Homo sapiens: one gene and its partners. The protein of the gene in region 1 interacts with the protein of each later gene in a pairwise test. Each region holds a gene or a part of one and is shown in the gene's direction. Other genes may lie near its edges.

Region 1 (3,414 bases):
CCTGACCAACACGGTGAAACCCTGTCTCTACTAAAAATACAAAAATTAGCCAGACAAGGTGGCGTGCACCTGTAATCCCAGCTACTCGGGAGGCTCAGGTGGGAGAATCACTTGAACCCGGGAGGCAGAGGTTGCAGTGAACCGAGATCGCGCCACTGCACTCCAGCCTGAGTGACAGAGTGAGACTCTGTCTCAAAAAAAAAAAAAGAAAAGGTGGCTGATGAGAGACCATTCATCCAATAAATATTTATTACTGTCTACAGTTCATTGAGGGTTTAGAATACAGAGATGAACGACCCATGTCATGAATAGGACTATGGAGGATACAGAATCTGGGGGAAAAAAGGAAACCCAAGATAAATTTTTAGATTATGAATTAATGATGCCTCTGAAACATTTCTTCCCAGTTTTGAGAACTAAATAGTTCTTGTAGATATGGAAAGCCATCTAAAAACCACAGTCTGTTAATTTGGCTAGTTTATATGCAGCTACCTTCAAAAGAACCTAGATATTCTCCAAAGGAGATATACAAATGGGCTGGGCAAAGTGGCTCACACCTGTAATCCCACCCCTTTGGGAGACTGAGGCATGAGCATCGCTGGAACCCAGGAGTTTGAGACCACCTGGGCAACATAGTGAGAGCCTGTCTCAAAATTTTAAAATTAAAAAAGAAAAATGACCAAATGACCAAAAAATACATGAAAAGATGCTCGATATCATTAGTCAATAGAGAATGCAATCAAAACCACGATAATAAGGTACCACTTCAAATCCACTAGGATGGCTATCATTAATGAAATGGAAAATAGCAAGTGTTGGTGATGATGTAGATAAACTGGAACCTTACACGTTGCTGGTGGGAATATAAAACAGTTCAGCCTCCATGGAATAAGCTTCTCAGTTCCTCAAATGAATTGCCATATGACCCAGCAACTCCACTCCTAGGAGTATAAATAAAAAACTGGTATTTAAACAAATGCCTATACACACAGGTATCTGTATATTCATAGCAGCACCATTCACAAAAGCCAAAAGGTAGAAACAGCCCAAAACATCCATCAGTGAATAAGTGGATAAACAAATTGTGGACTGTCCTTCCAATGAAATATTATTCAGCTGTAAAAAGAAACGAAGTTCTGATACATTCTACAACATGGATGAGCCTCAAGCAGAAGCTGGAGGGTCAGGAGAAAAGAACCTAGATACTAGAACTAGAAAGCCTCTTTACTCATTAAATAATCCCATTGTATCTGGATATTTTCCACTAAATAGAGTATCAAAAATAACATTTTTATTATGCCTACTTCAAATAAATCATACCGCACACGTTTCTATTTCTTCCTCTTTGCCCTCATTTCAGCCATCTTTAGTAAGAGTGGCTCATCAGTTGATGGGAAGAACGTTTGTTTCCTGGGTCAGGTATTGTTTTTAAAATACCATGACCCATTTACAGTATAAATAAAGAACTAGACTCTGCACAGACTTAAAACCTAGGAACATGAATGGACAACAGCATAAATACATACAATTATTATGTATCAATTAAACATTTTTTTTTAATAGAAGACACAAGGGAGGTTTTGCCTTGACCGAAGTTATTCCTGGTTCAAATGCCTCCTGAAAATGACTTCCTAGTGGAAAATACAATCTCTCCAGTCCTCTAGCAAATGGTTCTTTCCCTTTTGAGAAAGTTACTGTGTGGTTCAGTAATTTCCAAATAGTGTTCAACTAACTATATTAGAATTGCCTTGGGAGCTGTTATTTTTTTAAGTGTAGGAATCAGCCACCCCCAACTGTATATTTCTGATTGAGTGAGCTAGAGTGCAGCCTAGATATCTGTATGTCTTTAACACTGTCAGATCATTATGAAGTGTAATGTGTTTGAAAACTGCTACAGCTGAGCAGTTGTGGTTTTTTGTTTGTACAAGCAAAACAAAGATTGCGAGTGGTGTAGTATACCATGGAGGCTTAAAAAGAAAGACAATAATAAGAATTGTATTGTTTTTACAAAGGGATCCACTTTATACATATTGGACATTAATCGTCATCCTTGAATGTGTCATTACAGATGAACTGAGCGCCAATGGACAATATCAATGTCTTGCTGAACTGTCCACCAGCCCCATCACAGTCTGTCATGGCTCCGGTATCTCCTGTGGCAATGCACAAAGTGATGCAGCTCACAATGCTTTGCAGTATTTAAAGATAATAGCAGAAAGAAAGTAAATCTGGAGCAACTTAAAAAATCTTTCAGTAGCACATAAAAAGTTCCCCTCTGGCCCCTTCCCAAGTAAAACTTTTACCGTAGTGTTTATGTCTTGTTTCTAAATCTCTTCATAGATTCCATCAACACTCCAGATTTAATTATCTCCTCATAGTTGTTATTAAGCTCTTTTTAATGGCTTCAACTTTGTATCAGTATACTGTATTTATAAACTTTGTACCACAAGAGAGAGTGTAGCACCCATTTTACAGTGCCATGCACATCAGAGAAAGAAACTGCATGTTTGTTGTTGATGATGAAATAAAAATGCTAGCGACAGTCTTTCTTACTGGTGCTTAAGCTCTTCTTTGCACAAAGCTTTATAAAGGGAATTCAAAGGAAGCCCTTTAGAATTAGAGTCTTGAGGGACAGCACTAACAGGCCTTTATTAAGTATGATTGATTGTTAAATTTCAGGGAACATGATTGGTCTGCTGTGTATTTGAATTCATGTAACAAAGAACTGTTACGATGGGATTCTGCTCATTTTATTAAAAAGCTACTGACTTGACTGTCATCCTGTTCTTGTTAGCCATTGTGAATAAGATTTTAATGTTGATAATTCTGTTATTTACATATCTCTAATTTACTTTGAAATTCAAAGGTGAAAATAAAAAATGATGGCCTAAGTAAAATTTACAAACATACATGTAATGGGTTACTTCCTTACTTTCTCTAAGCGTATGCAACCTTGTATTTTTCTTTGACATAACCATACACAGGTGAATTACTAGTTTAAAAAGCATTTGACCATGCATGTTGGCTCATGCCTATAATCCCAACTCTTTCGGAGGCCAAGGTGGGAGGATCCCTTGAGGCCAAAAGTTTGAGACCAGCCTGGGCAACATAGTGAGTCCCCATCTCTACCAAAAAGAAAATCAGGTGTGGTGGCACACTTTGAGTCCCAGCTACTCAGGAGGCTGAGGTGGGAGGATTGCTTGGGCCCAGAAGATCAAAGCTGCAGTGAGCTAGGATCACAGCACTGCACTCCAGCCTGGGTGACAGAGTGAGACCCTGTCTCAAAAAAAAAAAAAAAAAAAAAAAAAAAAAGCGTTAGTAGAATTACCCAAAAAACCTTCCCAGCTTATTCAGTTCAGTTGCAAGAATGTTCCAAAGTGATGAGTGATTAAAAGGTTAGGAAATAAGTCTAAT
Region 2 (3,752 bases), on another chromosome or scaffold:
GGTCTCACCATGTTGGCCAGGCTGGTGTCAAACTCCTGACCTCAAATGATCCACTCGCCTCAGCCTCCCAAAGTGCTGGGATTACAGGCATGCGCCACCACACCCGCCTAATTTTGGTACTCTTAGTAGAGATGGGGTTTACAGGGTTTCACCATGTTGGCCAGGCTGGTCTCTATCTCTTGACCTCAGGAGCTGCCTGCCTCGGCCTCCCAAAGCGCTGGGATTACAGGCGTGAGCCACCGCACCCAGCCCTGTACCAAAGTTATTAAATGGAGGAAGCAGAAATTAATTTGGGAGGGAGGGTCAGGGAAAACTTCCTGGAAGACACATCTATGCTGAAATGTGAGTTAAGTTTGCCAGACTAAAAAAATGAGAGGGCTCACTTTCTTTGAGTATTCAGGAGGACAAACAAACAAACAACAACAACCAAACCCAAAAACAGTACGAGAGCACAAACAAGACTGAAGTACACATATGTGCCCTGAACACAAAAAACATCTTGAGCACCCTGCTTTTAAGCCTCCTGGCCATTCTGTCACTTCTGTTGGAAAGTATTTCCCTCCTTGTCCATTTCTGTGAATTCCTTCTGTTATGGTTAAACTGTTCCCCCAGCACTCCAGAATGTGATTGTATTTGGAGATCAGGCTTGTAAGAAGGTAATTAAGTTAAAATGAGGCCATTAAGGTGGGCCCTAATACAACCTGACTGACGTTCTCATAAAGAGGAAATCTGGATGCAAAGAGAGACGCCAGAGATGTGAAAACACAGAGGAAAGACCATGCGAGGACACAGCAAGAAAGCAGCCACGTGCAAGCCAAGGAGAAATGTCTCAGAAGAAACCAAACCTGAAGACACCTTGATCTTGGACTTCTAACCTCCAGAACTGTGAGAAAATAATAAATTTCTGTTGTTTAAGCCACCCAGTATTTTGTTTGCAGTCCTAGCAAACTAATACACCTTCTATTCCAGGCCCAACACTGCTCACTTTCAGAGTGAAACCTTATCACCCATATACACACACCTTGGGAGTGAAGGTTTCTCACAATACTCTGTGCATCCTCCACTCAACTTTCATTCATTCATTTAAGCAACAAACACCTAGTGACCACCACTGTGTGCCAGACCCTGTTTTAAGGGCTGAGAAGAGCTAACGTTTATTGAGTACTTACTAAGTGGCAGCCACTAGTCTAAGCGATTTACATGCACCAACTCATGAAATACGACAAGGTTCCAGGGACGCAGGTGCCGCTATGACATTCGCTTTACAGATGCGGGGCTGAGGCACAAAGAGGCCACACCGTAATGAAACTGAGCTAGGCTGTGGGCTCTGTCGTCTTAAGCGCTACTCTCAACTACAGCGTGGAAGGAAACAGAAGCCGAGAGATGGGCAGCGCGTAGCGGAGGCGGGCCGGGCTGGCTTCCAGCGGGCAAAGCCTGGAGATGAGAGGGCGCGGGTGGGGTTTCCAGGCCGAGGAAGCTGCACCAGGGAGAAGGCCCGGCTCCCAGGCCCGGAACCTGGCCGTCTGGGTCTCAGTCCGCGTCCCCTGTGATGCCCGGCACAGAGCAAATGCTCGCTGACTCTCGCAGGAGCCGCCAACCCCCCGGGTATCCTCGAGTGCCCAGAGACGGGAAGGAGCGGTGGGTCCATGCCCTTCTGGGCCACCTTCGGGCGCCCGGCCTCCCTTCCCTTCCGGGCCATTCCCACCAGCGCCAGCCCCGCACGCCTTCGCAAGGCCGGCCACCTTACCCTCGGAGGCCGCTCTCTGCCCCGCCGCCTACTCTTCACCTGCAGCAGCTGCCTTCAAGGCCACTCGCAGCGATCCGCTGGCCGCGGAATCATCACGACAACGCCCCCTTGGCTTGCCGGAACCGCCTTCCTGCTTCCGTTGGCGTCACTTCCACTGGGGGGGGCGTGGCCGCGGTGCGCAGGCGCGCTGGGTGGTTCAGAAGCGAATTCTGCACCGCGAAGCCTGAGAGGCAGGTAGCTGCGGCGCTGGGCTGGCGGCGGCGAGTCCACGTGCTCCCCGCGGCCGGTTGAAACCGTTGGCGGGCGCTGGCTGAGAGGTGAGGGGTGGTGGCCCAGAGGTCCGACCTGGGAGGCTGGGGCTCAGAGAGTGAGTAGGGGAGGGACGGGATTTCCACCGTCAGCCCCTCTGGGTTACGCATGGAGGAAGGAGTTCCATTCAGATCTCACTCCTGCTCTGGGGAAGTGGCAGGAGTCCTGGACTTAGGGTGACCAACTCGTTTTAGTTTTAAAACTTAAGGTCCGGCGTCCTGGGAACTCCCTCGGGCCTGGCCAAACCAGGACGATTGGTCACCGCCCGACTGGGCTTCAGGCTTGCTGCATGTTGGAGACAGGGCTCTTCTCTGAGCCTTGGGAGATCAGTCCCTAAAGAGGAGGCCTTAGGATGTAGCGGTCCAGAGCACATACTTAGGATCAGAATAACTACTGCGTGTGAATCTGGGTTGCCACTACCTGGATGTGGGATGACCTGGTGTAAGTTTTTTAACCTCTTTGCGCCTCACTTTCCTCATCTGTCATAACATATAGAATCTAACTCGGAGAACTGTGATGAGGATTACATGAGTAGAAATGTGTTAACCTCCTATGAGAGGGCTTGGGTGCTCCATGAATGTTAGGATTCTCTGAAGCACCTACCTCTGAGGAGAGAGGGAGGAGGATGAGGTGGGGTCTGTATTTGCAACCCTGATTTCTAGCAGAGAGGGCCCACTTGGGACTTACTCACACTGTGCCCGAGGCTCCCAGGGTCTAGCATAGTGCCTGACACATGGTAGTTACTCGAGTGAAGGGATGGTGTTTAAAACAGTGCTGGTGATGCCGTGGGTGGGGTAGGAGGCAGAGAGAAATGGCTTCTGTGCCTCAGTTTGCTCATCTGTTTAGTGGAGATAGGTGCACCTACTTCCCAGGGCTTTTGCAAGGAACAAGGGAGAGATTCTCTCCTTGTGAATGTCACCCATTGTAACCCTTGTCAGCCTCATACACAAAGGTTTAGGCAGGATGGTGGACAGAGTATGTTTGTCTGTCCTTCTCTTGCACCATACCCATGGTTTCTCAGAATGCTACCCGTGGAAGGGGCTTGAGTCTTGTCAAGTTGGCCTGACTTCTTGTTTCACAGATGAGATAACTTGAAGTTTATAGAGGCAGTGGCATGCTCAGGGTCACAGTGTTCAGTGGGGGATATCCTGGGGTTGCCAGCTAGGCCCCTCAGGTGGGCTGTTTGAGTGGTAGTGGTGGTAATGATGTGTAGGTCAGTGTCTGCATGTGCATGCAAGAATATTTTAAGAATAGTCAAGGCCAAGCGCAGTGGCCCGTGCCTGTCATCCGAGCACTTTGGGAGGCCGAGGAGGGTGGATCACCTGAGGTCAAGAGTTCACAACCAGCCTGGCCAACATGGTGAAACTCCGTCTCTACTAAAAATACAAAAATTAGCCGGGCATGGTGGCATGTGCCTGTAATCCCAGCTACTGGGGAGGCTGAGGCCGGAGAATCACTTGAACCTGGGAGGCAAAGGCTGCAGTGAGCCGAGATTGCGCCATTGTACTCCAGCCTGGGCAACAGAATGAGACTCCGTCTCAAAAAAAAAAAAAAAAAGAAAAAAAATTGAATAAGTAATACAAAAATATAGAGGGAAGAAGATTTAAAAAAAATCATTCCAATCTCAGAACCAAACCTAAGGGCATGTTATCAGGGAACTTGGTAAAGTAGGCAGCCATGGGGTGAGGAGCCAGAG
Region 3 (3,752 bases), on another chromosome or scaffold:
GTGCTATCTGTGGAGTGATAAAAATATGCATGATACCATCTCTGTCTTTACAGGGCTTGAAATGTATTTAGGGAAGCCAGGCATGTATGCATGAAATAGAAAGTCACCATACAAGGCAGTGGGGCACCTGCCATTTGCTGCAGAGGACGCAGCTGAAGATAAGGACTACAGCCATTCAAGGCCCCAGGGGAGGCCAGGGCAGGACTGGGACCAGAGCCTCACCAAAGACATGGAGATCCTAGGATAAGAAGGCTGAAGGGTTAGTTTCTGGATCATCTGAAATTTGATATTTTAAAAGCTTTCTTTAAAAGACGCTTTTATAATTCTCTCTTAAAAAATTCAGCCCATTTTGTCCTTTGCCATTTTTGAATTGGGTTATAGGTCTTGTACTTATTGATTTATAAAAGCTCTTTCATTTTAGAAACATTAATAATAAATATTTTACCTAGTTAAGAAAATTTAGCTGCCAAGTGATGTCTTTTCCATATGGTGACAAATACATTAAGGAGAGGGGAAGGTCAAAATTTGTGCTTTATGATTTCTTCTTAATTTTTAAAAATTTTTAATTTTATGGGAACATAGTGGGTGTATATATTTATGGGGTACACGAGATATTTTGATACAGGCATGCAATGTGTAATAATCACATTAGGGTAAATGGGGTATCTGGCACCTCAAGCATTTAGCATTTCCTTTTGTTACAAACAATCCAATTGTACTCTTTCAGTTATTTTAAAATGTACAATATGTTTTGCTGACTGTAATAACCCTGTTGTGCTGTCAAATACCAGATCCTATTCATTCTATCTAACTCTATTTTTGTACCTAGTAACCATTCCACCCCCGCCCCTTCCTAGCCTCTGGTAACCATCATTCTATTCTCTCTGTCCATGAGTTCAATTGTTTTAATTTTTAGCTCTCACAAATGAATGAAAACATGTGAAGTTTGTCTTTCCATGCCTGTTTTATTTCATTTAACAGAATGTCCTCCAGTTCCATCCATGGTGTTGTAAATGACAGGATCTCATTCCTTTTTATGGCTGAATAGTACTCCACTACGCATATGTACCACATTTTCTTCATCTAATTTATCTGTTGATGGACACTTACATTGCTTCCAGATCTTGTCTATTGTGAACAGAGCTGCAATAAACATGGCAGTGCAGGAATCTCTTCAAGATACTGATTTCTTTTTTGGGGGTATATACCTAGCAGTGGGATTGCTGGATCAGATGGTAGCTCTATATTTAGTTTTCTGACAAACCCCAATACTGTTCTCCATAGTGGCTGCATTAATTCACATTCTCACCAGCAATGTAGGAGGGTTCATTCTCTTTTCTTCACATCCTTGCCAGCATTTGTTATTGCCTGTCTTTTGGATAAAAGCCATTTTAACTAGGGTGAGACTTTATGATTTCTTGGTGAACAAGGAAAAGTGTTTAAGCTGTCCCCACCCTTTGATGGGTATGTTCTCTCTTCACGTGCGTAGGTTGTTGATGAAAGTCTAAGCGATTAATTTAAGCCATGTCAGAATAAACCAAAGTGAGGGTCCCAGCAGAATCATTCACTCTAGAATGCTCGGCTTTCTGGACCTCCCAGTGAGAACAGTGAGAAACTCCAGAGTTTTATGGATTTTAAGAATAGCTCTTCTGAGACTCTTTGGACAGGGTGCAAAGGAAAATTGTCTCCTCAGGTTGGGGGATGAGGGGGACTGTGAGATAAAGTACTGATAGATAAACTCCAGGTATGCACCTACTATGCTCCCCAAGCAATCTGCCATGTCCTTCACATGTCCTCCAGGGTGGCCCTGTGAAAAGCATTACTCCATCCCTTCAGCCCTCAACCTTGCTCGGCTTTCTAGAGTCTGTCTCATGCCGGCAGACACCCCATAGTTATTATTCTCTCTGCCCTCAGCAACATTTACCAGTTAGGGGGAAAATAAAGCCAGAAAATTGTTGCTATGGGCTCTGTTTTGTGGAAGTTAAAATGCTAGAGCAAGAATCTGATTGCTTGATAGCTCCATCTCTCTCTCTCTCTCCCTCCTACCCTCCTACCCCCCCACAGTTTCTCCTTCTTTTCCTCTCCCCTCCACCTCCTTCCCCCACCCCGCTCCCCCACATTTTCCTACTCCTCTCCCCTCTCTCCACTGGCCTCCCGGTCCTGCCCCCACATTGGGCTGGAGGAGAGCCTTACAGGTTGTCAATGAAACATGGAATTATTTCCTTTGATGGCTTAGATAATAGTAGGAGCCAAAGCAATGAGTGAGGTCGGCTGAAACCAATGCAGTCCTGCCCGGGACTGGAGAGCCAATCGCAAGAGCAGAGGGCGGGGCGTCGGAGCCAGCAGATAATTGCTAAGTGCATCGCTAGCACAGTTGGTCCGAGCTGCCGAAAGGTCTGGTCGCAGAGACAGGAACGTGTAATCCTCAGCGTGCTCCAGCCCACAGCTTCGCTCTACTGCTCGGCAGGGCAGCTGGCCTCTGGGCACCGGCGGCCCCTCTGCCTCGCGGAAAAGGTACCTCTGCCTGCGTCCCGGGGGTGCAGCGCCTGCGTCTCCATTGCCAGTGGCTTTGCAGTTTAGCCTAGGTGGAGGGATTGCAGAAAGAAAAGTTTCTGGGAGGGAATGTGATAAAGGTGGGAAATCACTGTCTTTTGTTGGGAGGAAAACAAGCGGACAATTTGGGAAACTTCTGCGCTGGCAAGAAATGGGCTTGTTTACTACTCCTAATTAGCTGCGCTCAGGTCTGTCTAAATAGGTCTGGTCTCAGGCTAGGGTGTCTGCAGGGCTGGGGTGGAGATTCGGGTGTGCTGGGTGAAAGAAGTTGGATCCCAGGGTGTGCTGTTTCCTGGTGCACCCATCATGGATAGGCTGGTTCCGAGAGAAACGTGATTGGTTGTTTGTGTTTTCCGCTATAGGGTCTGTCCCCTTCGTATTACCTTGATCTGCCTTCCCCAAACTATTGTGACCTTCAACTGGAGTCCTTCCTCAAACTTCTGCCTCCTTCCTGCCTGTCTCAGTTCATTTTATTTGGTGGAAGGAGACATTCCCCGGGGTGGGTGGGTGAGGATGGTCTATTCTGTTTGACCTGGTGGGCACCTACGTGACAACTTGGTGACACGCCAGCAAAACAGTTCTCAGAGGAGAGGAAATCACATAATTAATTAGCTCCCGAAAACTCTGGAAGACTTTCCAGGCTTGGGGTATCCTGAAAAAAAAAAAAAAAGAAAAAGCCAAAAAACGGGATAGAGAGTTCGGTTTGGTACCATGTGAAGCTTACACCCTTGTCCCCAGAAGGGGTGCCTGGCCCGGAGCATCCCCGCAGCTCTGGGAGGTGGAGGCTGGTGGAGGGGGTGGCTCCGTGTAGGTGCGCAGGTTGTTTTGGTGCACAGGTGCATTTGTGGCAGAGGTGGTGCTGAAGTCACCATCCACACTGCTTCTGCTAACTGCTCTTGAAGTAAAACAGCTCACCCCGGCAGGCAGCTGGTTCAGCCCAGAAGCACCCTTGAGCATTCTAAATCGCGAGACCTCAGGGGCCTCTCTTGCTCTGAGACCCTTGGGAAACTCCTTTCTCCCCCTGCCTCCTCCGCCTTTGGCTTCTGCTAAAGGGAGATATTAGGTAGGTGAGTCACTAGGAAGCAGGGACCCATGGGGAAGCAGGCGATGTGCTTGGTCTCGAACTTTCTTCCTCTTCTGCGAAGGCAGCTTCTGCTTGTGTGCCCACCGCACTTCACCAGTTGCGCTGCCTACCTGCG

The links.
Region 2: the proteins of PRKRA (region 1) and LYAR interact in binary tests that used the Homo sapiens proteins (3 or more experiments, as listed by UniProt).
Region 3: the proteins of PRKRA (region 1) and ZMAT4 interact in binary tests that used the Homo sapiens proteins (3 or more experiments, as listed by UniProt).

Annotation. Positions count from the first base shown.
Region 1 is NC_000002.12:178,430,909-178,434,322, reverse strand, and holds the end of PRKRA (interferon-inducible double-stranded RNA-dependent protein kinase activator A), read left to right. Parts: intron 1-231; exon of another isoform or gene 232-941; intron 942-2,068; coding exon 2,069-2,226; 3' UTR 2,227-2,909; downstream 2,910-3,414. UniProt on the Homo sapiens protein: Activates EIF2AK2/PKR in the absence of double-stranded RNA (dsRNA), leading to phosphorylation of EIF2S1/EFI2-alpha and inhibition of translation and induction of apoptosis.
Region 2 is NC_000004.12:4,288,348-4,292,099, reverse strand, and holds the start of LYAR (cell growth-regulating nucleolar protein), read left to right. Parts: upstream 1-1,945; 5' UTR 1,946-2,064; exon of another isoform or gene 2,065-2,497; intron 2,498-3,752. UniProt on the Homo sapiens protein: Plays a role in the maintenance of the appropriate processing of 47S/45S pre-rRNA to 32S/30S pre-rRNAs and their subsequent processing to produce 18S and 28S rRNAs. Also acts at the level of transcription regulation.
Region 3 is NC_000008.11:40,896,445-40,900,196, reverse strand, and holds the start of ZMAT4 (zinc finger matrin-type protein 4), read left to right. Parts: upstream 1-2,370; 5' UTR 2,371-2,514; intron 2,515-3,752.